2 separate regions of the Homo sapiens genome follow, and region 2 is linked to region 1. A link means that fine-mapping ties the variant in region 1 to the expression of a gene that starts in the linked region. Tissue or cell type: subcutaneous fat. Region 1 holds a variant in brackets; the other region holds the start of a gene. All regions are shown on one strand. Distances are from middle to middle.

What was found. PIP is the estimated chance that this variant, and not a neighbour inherited with it, causes the effect.
Region 2: PPP4R3B starts here. The variant in region 1 is fine-mapped to the expression of PPP4R3B in subcutaneous fat (FUSION, PIP 0.95).

Annotation. Positions count from the first base shown.
Region 1 is chr2:55,546,151-55,554,259 of GRCh38, forward strand. PPP4R3B (protein phosphatase 4 regulatory subunit 3B) reads right to left here. Exons shown (of 17, transcript NM_001122964.3): 17 at 1,142-3,856. The coding sequence ends at 3,761. Among named protein-coding and RNA genes, the nearest start is that of CFAP36, 30 kb to the left of the region's middle. The variant G/A (reference allele first, on the strand shown) is at 3,507.
Region 2 is chr2:55,614,148-55,622,256 of GRCh38, forward strand. It overlaps PPP4R3B (protein phosphatase 4 regulatory subunit 3B), which reads right to left and starts at 3,475. Exons shown (of 17, transcript NM_001122964.3): 1 at 2,997-3,475; 2 at 1,304-1,359. The coding sequence starts at 3,138. It overlaps PPP4R3B-DT (PPP4R3B divergent transcript), which reads left to right and starts at 3,783. Exons shown (of 3, transcript NR_186624.1): 1 at 3,783-4,235. RefSeq lists enhancers at 2,431-3,357, 3,358-4,282, 3,376-3,775, 3,796-3,845 and a silencer at 6,291-6,340.

The DNA of each region.
Region 1 (8,109 bases):
GCAGTGGTAAGGTAGATTTTACATTTATCATTTACACTTATACGAGGCAGGAGCAAATAGGACTTGGAAAATAGATGTGCGGGATGTAAAAAATACTCACTCTTTCTAGACAAACTCTTACTAAAACACAGGCAAAGGGAATAATCGATTGAGCCTGTTGAAGGAGATGCCACCACTGGGTGTTGGTGTTTAAGAGAAGTGACCCTAAGATTTCTGTAGTCTGTTTGTTTAAAGATAAACCACAATAATAGGAGACCTTTCTTTCAGAAACTTGCAGGCCGGGTGTGGTGGCTCATGCCTGTAATCCCAGCACTTTGGGAGGCCGACGCAGGAGGATCACTTGAGGTCAGGAGACCAGCCTGGCCAACATGGTGAAACTCCGTCTCAACTAAAAATACAAAAATTAGCCAGGTGTAGTGGCGGGTAACTGTAATCCCAGCTACTTGGAAGGCTGCAGCAGGAGAATCGCTTGAACCCGGGAGGCGGAGGTTGCATTGAACCCGAGCTCACGCCACTGCATTCCAGCCTGGGTGACAGAGCAAGACTCCATATAAAAAAAATAAAATAAAAAAGGCCAGGCATGGTGGCTCATGCCTGTAATCCCAACATTTTGGGAGGCTGAGGGGGTGCAGATCACTTGAGGTCAGGAGTTCAAGACCAGCCCGACCAACATGGTGAAACCCCATCTCTACTAAAATACAAAAATTAGCTGGGCGTGGTGGTGCATGCCTGTAATGCCAGCTACTCGGGTGGCTGAGGCTGGAGACTCGCTTCAACCTGGGAGGTGGAAGTTGCAGTGAGCGAAATCACACCACTGCACTCCAGCCTGGGCAACAACAGAGCAAGACTCCATCTCCAAAAAACAAACAAACAAACAAAAAACTTCCAGTCTTGTAATATCCCACGTCCACCCTTTTCTAAGTACAGGATACTCCTGAGATTTAACTTATAATCACATTTTATCTCCTTAAGTCTACCATTATAAACTTTTAAAAAAGGATACCAAAATTAGTGTAACAGGATTTACTCATTTCAGTTACACAATTCCAAACTTTCCCCTGCAGGAAAACCAGTATTTACATTTGTTATATTTTCATCACTAGATGGCTAAGAGGAAATGCTAGTGATTAAAACACAGAAATCTGTTTCATGTAACTTTTTATTAAAAATAGTTTTTATATTGGACACATGTTTACAGATACCATTTTAAGAAGACCTAAGGCATACAAATGTGGGCTTTTGGCTTGCTTCACTGAATGAAGATAAAGATATAAAAACCCAGATCTGCCTGAGGGTAGTCGTTTAAAGACAGCCGCTAACATGGAATTCTCACAATTGTTCTTTTGAGGGATATTTTAAGCCTTGTTCTCTTATCGTCGTAGGTAAGCACTTGTACCATGAAAACCGTAACCTGTACTTCAAGAAAACATTCACATTTCTGCTACAAGAAAAGGTTCTGATGATTTAAATGTTTAAGACTTATGGCAGCTCTTCAGAAAGAAAAAGGAAGTCTTCATAAGATACAGAGATAGGGAGGCTGAGGCGGGTGGATTGTGAGGTCAGGAGTTTAAGACCAGCCTGGCCAAGATGGTGAAACCCCGTCTCTACTGAAAATACAAAAATTAGCCTGGCATGGTGACGGGCACCTGTAATCCCAGCTACTCAGGCTGAGGCAGAGAATTGCTTGAACCCAGGTGGCGGATGTTGCAATAAGCCGAAATCGTGCAACTACACTCCAGCCTGGGCAACAGAGCGAGACTCAAACAAACAAACAAAAAGTAACTAGGAAAGTGTTTTACATGTGGGCTTATTTTAAGAAGAAATTTACTAAAAGCTGAGAGATGGGTCTCGATAAAATTTGATGATTCAAAGAAAGTGGATGGGAACTTTACTGATCTTAGTTTAAAATATCCTGAGTCACCTGCCTTATGAGGTGGAAGGTCTTTCTTTCTTACTATATGTACACCTTTAATTGAAAAGGTGAGAAAAGCTCCATACTGTGATGCTATGATTTCCCCAAGGCTTACCTTCTATAAGTAGTCACTGATAAAGTGCCATTGACCCGCATTTGTTTAGAATTATTTCATTAAAATTGGGGTATGATCTAGCAGTTTATAATAAATATTTATGGATAATTTTATTGGCTTTTAAAAGATACTGTAAAATTGACATATCTCAAAATGGAGTTAATTTATATTTACAACAAACCAAACACAAACATCAATTATGGAATTACAGGGTCACATTTTAATTCCTGAATTTTACAGTTTAGCATTAATATCACCACATGTATACAAATGGTGTAAAACAAGTACAGTGGTATTTTTTAATACAAAATAAACATCTGTTTTATGGAAAAAACTATACTTCATATCTACACAGACAGCTCATCTTTTCCAAACAATAGCCAAAATTAAAATTAACTACAAAATCTCCAAAACAGGGGAAACTGCTTTAGATTAAACGATTCCAGGAAAAATGGACCCGTAACACATTACAAGGGTGATCTAAAGATTGTGGCTGGAATTACTGTTAAAGTTTTTTTTTCCCAATGCATTAAATTGTATTTTGGGGAGATTTTTCTCACTTCGGCATGATCTCAGATCATAGATGAGCAAACTAACATTAAAATATTTACAGTTAACTTGTTGCTCTAAAAATAAAACTTAACTGTTTGCCTCAATTTATTTTTAAAATTCACTTACGTATATGGAATGTGCTTTTACTCTTCTTAAAAAAGCAGCTTTCATATCACACCCTTGTTTACAGAAAAGCTACATGTGCTGCATGCTGACTTTGACACTTAAGTAGCTTCTTGGATCAAAATGGCTTCTAGATACTAAATGCCACTTAATTCAGCACTATTCTTGGTTGGTCTGTATAAGTAACACTTTAAAACTTGCAGCTCTGGAAAGACAGAACTTTACTAACAAAGTAGAAAGTGATTTCAAAGTATCTTCCACAAAAGATTGTACTGGTAGGCGGTTGACAACATTCTGTTCGATCTACTTTCAAATTTCTAGAGAAAATCATTTTGGAATACTACTGTACTGATTCTTGGCCTTCGTTGTCTCTAAAAGTGCTGATTTTAACATTATCTTAAAACTGTCCAGTTTGAATTGAGCTTGTTTTCATCAATATACATATTGAAAATTCCTGGTGTAGAAAACTCAACATGTGCTGAATACGGGGTGTACTTCCCTTCAACTACCTAAAAGGCTGAACTTTTGTTAAATCTTAAAGAAATGGTCCCAACAGCTTAACTTCATTTTTTTAATGATAGTTGAATGTGTTTTCCATAAAAATTTCTTTTAAAAAGAGGCAACTGATTAAAACAACAACATGGCCAGCACCATTATACAAGTAATGTTATTGAGTTTACAACTGAAGTTCTGTAAAATTGTTTCTAGATCGACACCCCGAGGAGCAACCCTGCATTATTATATCAACCTTTTCCCCTCCCCTAAACCGTCCCCAAACCTGTGACTTTTCCTTGCTGAGAAGCT[G/A]TCTCCCAGGTTCTGGTTACTAATGTTTGTTTTGACAGCCTAAAAGGCAAACCCCTTAATTACTAGCAAGCAATCAAGTTCCTGGGAAGCCTGATTTTTATTAGAACTAAACTCTCTTAGCTGATATACTGTCTTTTGCTACTCCTTGTATATTTTATAAGTTCAATTGAGAAAGCTTTCTGATTCAGATTTTCAGCTCACTGAACAGTTGCAGCATTGTAAGACCACATGTTGAGGGTCCCCTAATAAATATTTTATGAGCCAAGACGAGGTCTTTTCCTGGGGGACGATTCTTCTTCTTCATCTTCCTCTTCATCATCTGGATAATCCACTAAGCCAACCAAACTTCCCTATTGAAGAATTTAAAAATTTTTTCTTTAAACATATATAACAAAAAAGAGCTTTTAGTACAAATACAATCACTTGTAAAAATATCAGAAATCGTTTTTCTAAATCATATCAGAAATTAACATTTGAATTTGATAAAGGAACTGCTTGAAATTATGAACGTTTGAGTAGTAATTGGTAGCACTTGCAGTAACCCTTAACTTTTCTATCTGGTTCTTGGATTATTAATGATACTTCAAAACTCAATTCTGCAAAATTTTACTGTGGGAAAATGTCTACTTTTCCAAACAGTAGGGATAACAATTAATAACATTTGGAAGCTGGAAAGGACATTGGAGATGAACTGGTTCATTTCTCTAATTTCATTACCACAAGAAAGCCCCTTGTAGTCTTTGTTCATCTTGTGTATATTTCATCACTAAGTACACATTATTTTCATTGTGCTTTTGAAGTACAGCTTAAATGGCTGGAGATAAACACATGAAATGATTCCTATAAAATAATAAGTAAAACATTTAGGGCTAGCTCGCTGACCAAAAGAACAATAAGGATGAGGTAATTCGTGGTCTTGGCCTTTGATGAGTAACAGACCTCTGTGAAAATCCTAGAAAAACTCTGGGTACTCTCCAGAAAATTACACATCCACAGGGTTTCATTCATTTTGAGCCAATCCCATGAAAACTTATGTCCTATAGGTTAAGAGGGCTACTGTAAACACTGTATTTAGTTCAAACCCTTCAGACCTCTAGGAGATAAAACAAATACAACTGAAGTAACTCATACTTCATACCTGAAGTACTGAGGTATCGGGTTTTACCAGAATGTAACCAAATCAGTATAATATTAACCAACCAAAAAAAGGCCTCTGGGCAGCTAGAAACAGTTATCAGAAAGACTTATATACCTGTCTGAGAATCTGTTTCTCAACTTAATCACACACACATCTTAAGTCTGGATATGCAAGAAGCAATATGGCTAAATTGTTAAAAATAGGCTAACTGTAGGTCTGATGTCAAATTCTAATGACACCACGTTTTATGTAAAAAAAAACAAAAACAAAAACAAAACTTTGGGGCTGGGCTTATGCCTGTAATCCCAGCACTTTGGGAGATCGAGGCGGATGGGTCACCTGAGAGATAATGAGTTCAAAACCAGCCTGGCCAACATAGCAAAACCCTATCTCTACCAAAAATACAAAAATTAGCCTGGCGTGATGGCAGGCACCTGTAGTCCCAGCTACTCGGGAGGCTGAGGGACGAGCATCTCTTGAACCCAGGAGGTGGAGATTGCACCACTGCACTCTAGCCTGGGCAACAGAGCAAGACTCCATCTCAAAACAAAAAGAAAAACAAAAAAAAACACAAAACCTTGGGCAAGTGGTTTAATACCTCTGCCTCAGTTTGTCTGTAAAATTGGTATAGTAGTATTTAGGCCTCAGTGAACTATTTTGAAATTTAAATTGATGGCCAGGCGCAGTGGCTCATGCCTGTAATCCTAGCATTTTGGGAGGCCAAGGTAGGTGGATCACCTGAGGTCAGGAGTTGGAGTCCAGCCTGACCAACATGGTGAAACCCCATCTCTACTAAAAATAAAAAAATTAGCCAGGAGTGGTGGCGCATGCCTGTAATCCCAGCTGCTTCAGAGGCTGAGGCAGGAGAATTGCTTGAACCCGGGAGGCAGAGGCTGCAGTGAGCCAAGATTGCACCACTGCACTCCAGCCTGGGCAACAAGAGCAAGACTCCATCTCAAAAATAAATAAATAAATAAATAAATAGATAACCAAACATCTAAAGCACTTCAGCACAGTGCTTCGTATGTAGTTAGTGTTCAATAAGTGCTATTAGCTGCTATTACTACTATCATTTTTCTATTATTTTGTTTCTAAGCCAAACAAATTGGAAGAGAGGAAAAACAAGAAATAATTCTGGTATAAAAAGGCACCAATCTGATAATCAAAAAGATGACAGCAAAGTTACAAAGTTTTAATTATGCTTAGTATTACATATCATAACGTACAAACATTTGTATTCCAAATGGTTAACACTTAATTGTTTCTGCCCAAGATTAATAAATTGTCTGAAAAACTCACTTATACAATTTGAGTTTTACTTATATTATCTCTGCAAACTAACATACATTTAAAACATGTTTACAATAAAAATAATAAAAATGCAAAATATGAAATGTTGGAAGTAAAAAGGCCTGTAATCTAGAGATGCACTTTGTGAAGCTGATTCCATACTTTTAATATGTATCTAGAAATGTACTGTTTTAAAATAGCAGATTGAAATTATATTTACTCTTTTACAATCATGTTCATATAAAAAAAAGCTTTCGATGTCAGTACATAAAGTTCCATTTCATTGTTTTAAACCCTTGCATTCCATGGTATGAATATATATATATTTTTTAAGAGTCTTGCTCTGTCGCCTGAGCTAGAGTACAGTTGTGTGATCTCAGTTCACTGCAACCTCTGTCTCCAGGGTGCAAGCGATTCCTGTGCCTCAGCCACCCAAGTAGCTTGGGCTACATGCATGCACCACCATGCCTGGCTAACTTTTGTATTTTTAGTAGAGATGGGGTTTCACCATGTTGGCCAGGCTGGCCTTGAACTCCTGGCCTCAAGTGATCTGCCCACCTCAGACTCCCAAAGCCGAGCCACCATGCTCGGCTTCATCATATACTTTAATTCCTGAATTTCTGGTTGGACATTTGGGTTGTTTTTGCAGGGTATTTAGGTAAGAAATTTAAAAAGTGAATACCAGCAAAGAAAACAGGAGAAGAGAGAACAGCAGTTTAGAGTTGCCAAGGCATTTTTGGAAAAGAGAAATCAGAGGCAAGGCAAGTCATACAACAGGAAGAAGCCAAGAACTAAGTATTTGCAGAGGGATACAGAAACGAGAAACTGATTTGTCTTAAGAAAACCCCAGAAAGAAGCTAGGCAGTAAAGGCACCAAAATATTGGGGAAAGCAGGGAAAACAGTTTAATTATAGTAAAACAGACAACTGGGTCATTGATTCTACACCTCTGACAGCCAGGAGATTTCTGTTCCTCCACCATCACCAACTACAGAGAATTCTACATAGAAAATGACTCTATAAAGAATAAATTCTATAGAGAATGTAATGAACTTTACAGAGCAAAGGACCATATACTTCATGACTTTAGGCAAAGTAAAGGGCATGGGTAAGGCCAGGCTGAAAATGAAAGAATAAATTTAAATTTTGTATACTGAGCAGACACGCCTACCCCACAATAAGCTTTGCTATGTAGGCACTCAGAACACTAACAACCATTCTTATACTTACAAGGTGTAAGAGACTAGCTTTGTCTGTAAAAATTAGATGGCTTCACAGGAGTATGGGGGGAACTACAAACAACTAACACCTCCCGAAAAAAGCAGGGCACTACTCTCTAAGTCCATACCATAAAGTCAAGTTTTTAAAGTGTATAATTTTCACACACCATAAACTCACCATTTCAGAGCATATAATTCAGTGGTTTTAGTATATTCACAAGTTACGTAATCACCACCAATTCCAGAACATTTCCACCATTTCACCCACCAAAAAAAGTCCCCATAAACAGTCCTCATTCCCCCACCACCCCCCACACCACCCAGCTCTTGGCAACCACTAACCTACTTTGTTTCTGCGGATTTGCTTATTCTGGACAGTTCATATAAATGGAATCATACAATATGTGGTCTTTTGTGACTGGTTTACTTCAATTACCACAATGTTTTCAAAGTTAATCTATGCTTAGCATATCAGGACTTCATTCTTTTTTATGGCCAAATAATATCCACTGTATGAATATGCTACATTTTGTGTATCCATTCATCAGCTGAGAGACATTTGGGTTATTCTTACTTTTTGGCTATTATGAAAAATACTGCTATTAACATTCATATACAAGTTTTACAGTGGACACATGTTTTCAATTTTCTTACAATATATACCTAGGAAATGAGGTAGCTGGGTCATATGGTAACTCTGGGTCATATGGTACTCTGACTTTTTGGGGAACCGCCAGACTGTACTCCAAAGCTGCTACACCATTTTATTTTTATATATTTATTTTTTGAGACATTGTCTTAGAGACTCGAAAGTGCAGTGATGTGATCTCGGCTTATTGCAACCTCTGCCCGCTGGGCTCAAGTGATACTCCCACCTCAGCCTCCCGAATAGCTGGGACCACAGGCATGTGCCACCATGTCCAGCTAATTTTTGTAGACGGGGTTTTGCCATTTTG
Region 2 (8,109 bases), 68 kb after region 1:
TAACAGTAAGACTTTGTAATAATAAGCTGCACAACAGACAGAATTTTATTCCTCCAACTACGAAGTACTTGTTTCTGGGCATCCAAATTTTCATAAACCTTGAAGTGGGCACTGACGCTGTAAATGTAATCCTAAAATAATTTATCTTCCTTCAAAAATCTCTGCCATCGTGACTTTACATACCACACACAAAAAAGAATACCTGGAAATAATTCAAATGTATAACAACAAGTGTATGTCATACATAAGAATACTATACAGAGTTTAAAAAGAAAACTAGATCTACATTGTTAACATGAACGAATATTCAAAATGAATGTGTGAAAAATGCAAGCTGCAGAATACATGTAAGAGTATGACATCCACTGTGTAAAGTTTAAAAACACACAACAGACTACATATTATTTATGGATACATACATATGCAGAAAAGGTATAAAAGCATGTACACAAAGAATACACATCAACTTCAGAATAGTGGTTACCTATGTAGGGGATGGAGAATGTAAACAACGGGATGGATACAAACAAGCTTTAACTCTATCCATAATGTTCAATATTACAAAAATATTTGAAACAAATATGGCGTAACATTAACATTGTTAAATCTGGTGGTGTTACAGTAGACACCGATTATTCTCTGTACTTTTCAATTTTAATATATTTCATAATAAAAACAAAAACATTCACAGAATAAAAAAGATTGAATCACTGCTACCATTTTCAGATTAATCAGGCGTGCTAAAATACAATACACATTTTCTTTCCCAAATAAGACAATATTAACAGAAGATGTTACATACTTGGTAATGTACATTTTTATAAAGTATCCATTGATTACTATATTAAAAATACACAACAATTAAAGAGCAGGATTTAATGCTTCTACTTCAAAACCTCTACCTTTACTTGAGTCAAAGGATTTAATTTCACACCACAAACAGGCTTTCCTTGCTTTAAGAGTATCCCTTTGAATTTTGTTCTATGTCATTTCCTTTAAACGTGACTCAGAATAAAAGGTTTCATGTACAAGGTATAGAAGAGACTTGGCTAACTACAGTTAAATAATACTAATAAATACATCTTAGAATAAACCGACAGTGGCTCAATCCAAAAATGATAATTATCACCAGTACAAAAACTTTTTTTCAGTCTGAAACTTTTAACCTGCAAGAGAAATACACATGATCTTTGTTTACCAAACATGTTTTTTTCTTGTCAGGAAAGCTTTCCCACCTTTGTCAGATTAATACTTCCTTGATCACAGATGAAGTCTTTCAAATTAAAGATAAACAACTACTTGCCTGTTGTTTCTGATATGCAGTATTTGGATTTATCTTTGATTCCAAGAGTAGTGATCCTGAAAGATAAAAAATAATACATCATAAGTCTCAAATGATAAAACCCTGAATAAAAATTAGAATACACATTAAAGCCGGGCGCAGTGGCTCACGTCTGTAATCCTAGCACTTTGGGAGGCGGGCAGATCACGAGGTCAAGAGATCCAGACCATTCCAGCCAACATGGTGAAACCGTCTCTACTAAAAATACAAAAATTAGCTGGGCGTGGTGGCGCATGCCTGTAGTCCCAGGTACACGGGAGGGTGGGGCAGGAGAATCGCTTGAGAGAGAGGGAGAGGAGGCAGAGGTTGCAGTAGCCCAGATCGCGCCATTGAACTCCAGCCTGGCAACAGAGCAAGACTCTGTCTCCAAAAAAAAAAAAAAAAAAAAAAAAATACACATTTAAACCCCGCCCCCCGCCCCCGCAAACTTTTCAAGTCTTTTTACCGAGTTGGACATCTTAATAAAATGTATTCGAATTCACATTTTCTCTCCAAATCTAGGCTTCACATTTAATCTAAAATATTTCACCCTATTCCCATACACCCTTAAAGGAAAAATTAATCTAAAACCAACAATCAAACCAAGGAATGAGGAGACTAGATGACTATTAAAATTTTATTGAAATAAAAATTTTAAGGTCTAAATGACCACTTCAAGCCATTCGTTTTAACAAAAGTTGTTTTATTGCATTCCCAGTTTAACAAATAATGCAAATTACAAAACAAAAACATCATGACAGGGATTAAATACTTAGTATAGAAATTACAGTGCTGCATTTATCCTTTCCTCATTAAGAACAAAAGAACACCTTCTGTAGAAGTGATGACTATTTAAAATAAAAGGGAACAAGCAAGAATACAAAATATGTCAAGACTAAACCTAAGATTATTTTTCTAACTGCCTATATCAGTTGTTCAAATCAAGTCCAGATTATACTATAAAAGGCATTTTAATTACGGCTCTACATTTTGTAATTTAAAATACTTCACATGACTACAATAAACCAAAGAACACAGCAGTTTACAACCTGCTTTGGTGTCCCAACTTGCTTAGATTGTAAGGCATTCACTTTCTCATAGCGCCTTCTACAAAGGCAGCCCGAAGAAATGCAGACTACAGATGTATGTGCTTGTGTGTCCATGTATCGTGGCAACAGTCAGCAATACAGCCAGGAAAACGTGCCTTTCGGTTTTCCCCAGCACCTGTCGACTGTGGCACCTGGGGCCCGTTGGTACAATTTTTTTTTTTTAAAAACACTCGGAAAGAAAAGTTTCCCTAAACCGTTTGTACTAGACGTATAATGGATAAGTAAATAAAGGGGGAGGAAGGTGTCAGCTCCTAGGGCGACATCAGTACCTAGTCTCTCACTACTTCCTCCCTTCTCTCTCACACTCTCCCCTCTTCAAAAGAGGAGGGACTGGAAAGGAAGGAGTCCAATCCTTAAGAGAGATGGGAGAAGGACAGAGAGTCTCGGTCTCCGAGGATAAGTCCAGTCAAAAGTACAGTACTTTGTTTTTGCCGTACACAAGAGCCAGTTCAGAACCAACGCGCTGTCCCGAAGGAGTAGCAACGGTAACGGGCCCAGGGCCCTAAACCCAAGCTGTGCCCCAACCAGAGGCACTATCCCCTATTCTACAGTTCCGATAACCTTACCGTCGGACTCTGCCCGAACCAGCAGCGACATCCCCTTGAGCTCCTCCACGTAAGTGGAGGAGACGTGCCCGGTGCCTCGGTCGTCCCATTGCCGGTCTTCGTTCAGGGTATAGACCTTCACTCGCCGCCGCGTATCCGACATGGTGGCTGCTGTCTCCACCGCTCTAGCCGCCGCCTCCTCGCTTACCTCGTCCGCGCTCCTCACTCTTAGGAGACGGTAAAGGCAGTAGTGGCGGTGGCGGCGGCGGCGGCTTCGGAGAGGCCCGAATTCACCATGGCTCCAAAGGTTCAGCCGCGAGAAGGGGTGACAAGAGCCACTGAGGCCTCTCCGCCCGGAGGCCCCGTTACCTCTCACTTCACCCGCGCATACACCCACTCTCCCGTCTCTTTGCCCCCCAGGGCTCGCTTGCTCTCCCGCCGCCGCGGTAACTACTACAGATCCGCCATCTTGTAACCCGACTCTCTCTGCCTTTCTCTTCCTCCTCCAGCAGGCTCGCACGGGCTGTCCTAGCAGGGGCTACGGCGGCCGACAAGTCCCATGAGCAGCACCTCCGCTTCTGCACGCGCTTCCCAGGCCGGAATGCTCGGCGCTCTCGCGAGGAGGGGTACCGACTGGGGCGGGAGTACTTCGGCGAGACTTCCTCCTCTTTCGGCCCGACTTCCTCCTCTTTCGGCCCCGCCTCTTGGCGCGGGGTCGCAATTGGGCGGGAGGTTCTCGCGATCTCCCCGTCCACGCCTGCGCCGCGAGAGGCCGCTAGGTGGAAGGGGACTTCGGTTCCGCACGTCGTCATGTTGTTGGATGGCACCAGTATGTGACGTTCCTAGGAACTTAGCTCTGAGGAAAAAACAAAGCAAACCGGGGAAGTACGTAGCCTTGAACCGGAGTAACCAGGGACAGAAAGGAAGGAAAAGGGTTTCATACCTTCACGGAACGACGCTCACTTCGTCCGCCTGAGGAGGAAAAATAAGTTTAAACCTTTCTGTGAAAAAGAACGTGGAGCCCTTTCTGCCGAATGGAAACCCGCTAAACCCCGTTATGGAGTCTGCTACAATTAAGCATCTAACCAGGAATTGTCTATGGACACAACTCTCCAGGCAATTCATGCAGAAAGTGTGTTGACGATTTCCTGTTTCTTGCAGAGCGCTTCACCGTTAAGGCTCTTAGTAGCTGGCGATTGTAAAGCACATTTTCCGCTTCATGAAAATACAGTGCTCTTCTTGTGTTTGTAACCTTGGAAAGTAAGTCTGCTATGATAAGTTTAGGGAAGTGGCGGGGAGCTACTTTCCTAACATATCTGTGATTGTTTTGATACTTCTCAGTTTCTCGCGGGCATTTCCTGCGTTCTCTATAGGGCTCTCTTGCACTGAATAAGGAAAGGAGGAATTCTCTCTGCATTGAGGCTATTATCGCACATTGTGCGGTGGATATAGTCACGCGCTGGGTCGTAGTAGCGTGTCGTTTATTTCAGTCCAGCTCACTCTTGGTAGAATCCCTTTATTCGTTTTGTTGTTTTTGATAGTCTCTCTCTGCTTCCCAGGCTAGAGTGCAATGGCGCTATCTCGACTCACTGTAGCCTCCGCCTTGAGGGCTCAAGCGATCCTCTCACCTCAGCCTCCCGAGTAGCTGGGACCGTAGACGCCTGCTCCCCATCCCCGCTATATTCGTTCTTTAATACAGTCTCTCAGCTTGTTCAGCTGCCACTTCTGTGCAGCTCATTAGCCTGATCGGTGAAAACTAGGCGAGACGCGCACACTGACCCTGCAGTGCATCTTGGGAGTTGTAGTCATAACTAATCAATGGTCTTGTTAAAACGTGCTTATGTTTTGACCAGATCGCTTAAGTGTGGACACCCTTCAGCAGTACACTACAACGTGGGTCAGTGTACAGAACACATGCTGATAGAAATAATTTCAAAATCTGGATTCATAGTTTTTTTTTTTAATCTAGAGACCTCAGAAAATGTACTTGAAGAAAATCATCATAATATAATACATAACAATAGAGCCAATTAATTGATGTGATGAAAGTGGACAAAATGTATTTTGACCTCAGAGAAAATAACATTTCTGTCTTGGAAGAGTCAGAGAATGCTTCACACAATTTTTGAGCCTGATGTTAGACTCTCCAGCCTTCTGTCCAAGCCTCACCCTTTGGTTACTCCCCAGGAAGACTGAACTTGGGAAGAGGATTGTGCAGACCCTGGAGTCAGGCTTGGCGTTTGGGATAGGGAATACTAGAGTGCCCACAGCATGGTCTGGAAAAGGGAAAGTGGGCTGCAGGTGGCTACAGTCCCATGATTCCATGGATTTCAGACCCCTCCAAAGCACAGGGCTCAGTGCTTATCCAAGTCTGAGGGCCCCCCATAACCACATCTTCCCCAGCAGATGTTCTTTGCTTCAGGCAGTCATCAAAGTTCCACTTCAAAGAGTTGCTAACCAAATAAGCCCACAATCTTCCTTTTTTGTTGTTTTGAATAAGTAATGCCTTTACACATATGAAATTAAAAAGAGAGGCCGGGCATGGTGGCTCACGCCTGTAATCCCAGCACTTTGGGAGGGCGAGGTGGGCAGATTGCCCGAGGTCAGGAGATCCAGACCAGCCAGGCCAACGTGGTGAAACCCTGTCTCTGCTAAAAATACAAAAATCAGCTGGGCGTGGTGGTGGGGGCCTGTAATCCCAGCTACTTGGGAGGCCGAGGTAGGAGAATCGCTTCAACCTGGGAGGCAGAGGTTGCAGTGAGCCAAGATTGCACCACTGCACTCCAGCCTGGGGGACAGTGTGACAGACTGTCTCAAAAAAAAAAAAAAAAAAAAAGGCAAAGATATATAGTGAAAACTAAGTCTTCTTTTAGTCTTTGTCTCCTGCCACTCATAGAATTTTCCTCTTGGAATCACCTCTATTCCATTTTCCTGTGTATGTTGCCAGAGCAGGGCTGGCTTCATGGTGGTGACCTGTACAGATAGGCACTTGGTTTAATGTTTTGCTGTCACTAACTTGAAATTCAGGAAAGTTTCTGGACAAGGGCCCTGCGGTTTTATTTTGCACTGGGCCCACAAAGTATGTATCTAGTCCTATTCCAGAGATATTCTATGCATATACAGGTAATTATATGTAGATATGTATGTAGTGGTCCAGTAGTGGTCCAGGGCCTGTTAGGAACTGGGCGGCACAGCAGAAGGTGAGTGGCAGGGGAGCCAGCATTTCGGCCTGAGCTCTGCCCCCTGTCAGATGAGCAGGGGCATTACATTCTGGTAGGAGTGAGAACCCTATTGTAAACTGCACATGCAAGGGATCTAACCTGTGCACTCCTTATGAGAATCCAACTCCCCCTTTCCATGGAAAAATTGTCTTCCACAAAACCAGTCCCTGGTGTCAAAAAGGTTGGGGACCTCTGTAGTAGGCTACCATCTAGGTTTGTTTAGGTACACTCTATGATGTTCACACAACAAAAAATCACCTGATGATGCATTTTTCAGAAAGCATCCCCATTGTTAAGGGACACATGACTGTAATGGAATACTATTCTTTTCCTTCCTTTTTATTTTTTGTGGAGACAGGGTCTCTACATGTTGGTGCCCAGGCTGGTCTCACACTCCTGAGCTTAAGGGATCTGCCTGCTTTGACCTCCCAAAGTGCTGGGATTACAAGTGTGAGCCACCATATCTGAACCCCTGTCCCCCACTTTTTTTTTCTTTCTTTTTTTCCATACACAGTCCAGGCTGGAGTGCAGAGGTGTCATCTCGGCTCACTGCAACCTCCGTCTCCCGGATTCTAACGATTCTCCTGCCTCATCCTCCTGAGTAGCTGGGATTATAGGTGTCCGCCACCACGCCCAGCTAATTTTTGTATTTTTAGTAGAGATGGGGTTTCACCATGTTGGTGAGGCTGGTCTCAAACTCTTGACCTCATGTGATCCACCTGCCTCAGCCTCCCAAAATACTGGGATTACAGGGGTGAGCCACCGTGCCCAGGACAGCCTTTTTTGGGTCAGTGTGTATATAGAGCTAACTCATTCTACTTAATGGCTACATAGTATCCCACTGTGATAGCCGCAAAAGGCAGACAAATCCTAGGCAGACAGGGGCAGGTCCCTGGTGAAACCCTTCAAGCTGAGGACAGTTTAAAGGCTAGCCACAAGACCAGGATAAATCCACAGACCAGATTGAGAACCTCTCTTCCCATTTGGCGTGCTTTCTTCTGATTGATCCCCACCCTTCACCTATTTTACACATATCCTTTCCTAATTGTTTTTTTACACTGTTGTACCTACCTTTGAGTGGTGCTGTTGTTTTAGCCTTTTTTGCATACTCACAAACCAATCAGCATGCACGCCTTCATTCTGAGCCCATAAAAGCTGTGGACTCAGCCGCACTGAGAGAGAGACCACCTGACTTTGAGTGAGGGACCACCCTTGCATCCTCTCTCTCCTGAGAGCTGTTTCATAGTTCAAATAAAACTCTTCTCCACCCTCCTCACCCTTTGATTGTCAGCGTAACCTCATTCTTGGACGCTGAAGAAAAATTCGGGACCCACCAAACGCAGATACAAAGAAGGCTGTACACACTGTGGCCCTTTGCCCTCTGCTGGTGGAGGGCAACCGTCCCACACAACGCGATGGGAAGCAGCAGTGGGGCAGAGCCAGTCCTGAAGCCACGGGCCTGAGTGGGGCAATGGGACTGATAGAGCTGTTAACATGCCACTGTCCGTTGGCCTGCAGACGGCAGAACTAAAAGAGTGCTTAGCATACTGTAACACCTCTGGGGCTTCAGGGTCATGAGCACCCCTGTTTGGGTGCCACCACATTTCCCTCAATGTGACACACCTGGTCCAGCCACAAGCCCCGCACAGAGCCCACTCCTGCCCTGTACTCGTTCACTCACACACCCCCTCCTGCCAGGGGCTGAGGCCATGGTGGCTGCAGGATTCGTGCCTGAGCACAAGCCAGACACATCCTGGTGGGCCGAGTAGTTGGGGTGTTGCTGGCCGGAGGTCTCCAGCTGTCAAAGTGGCCAAGAAAAATCCTGCATCAACTGTACAAATGTACCCTAATTTATTTAACTCATTTATTGTATATTTGTGTCATTTCCAATGGTTCGTAATTTCAAACATATG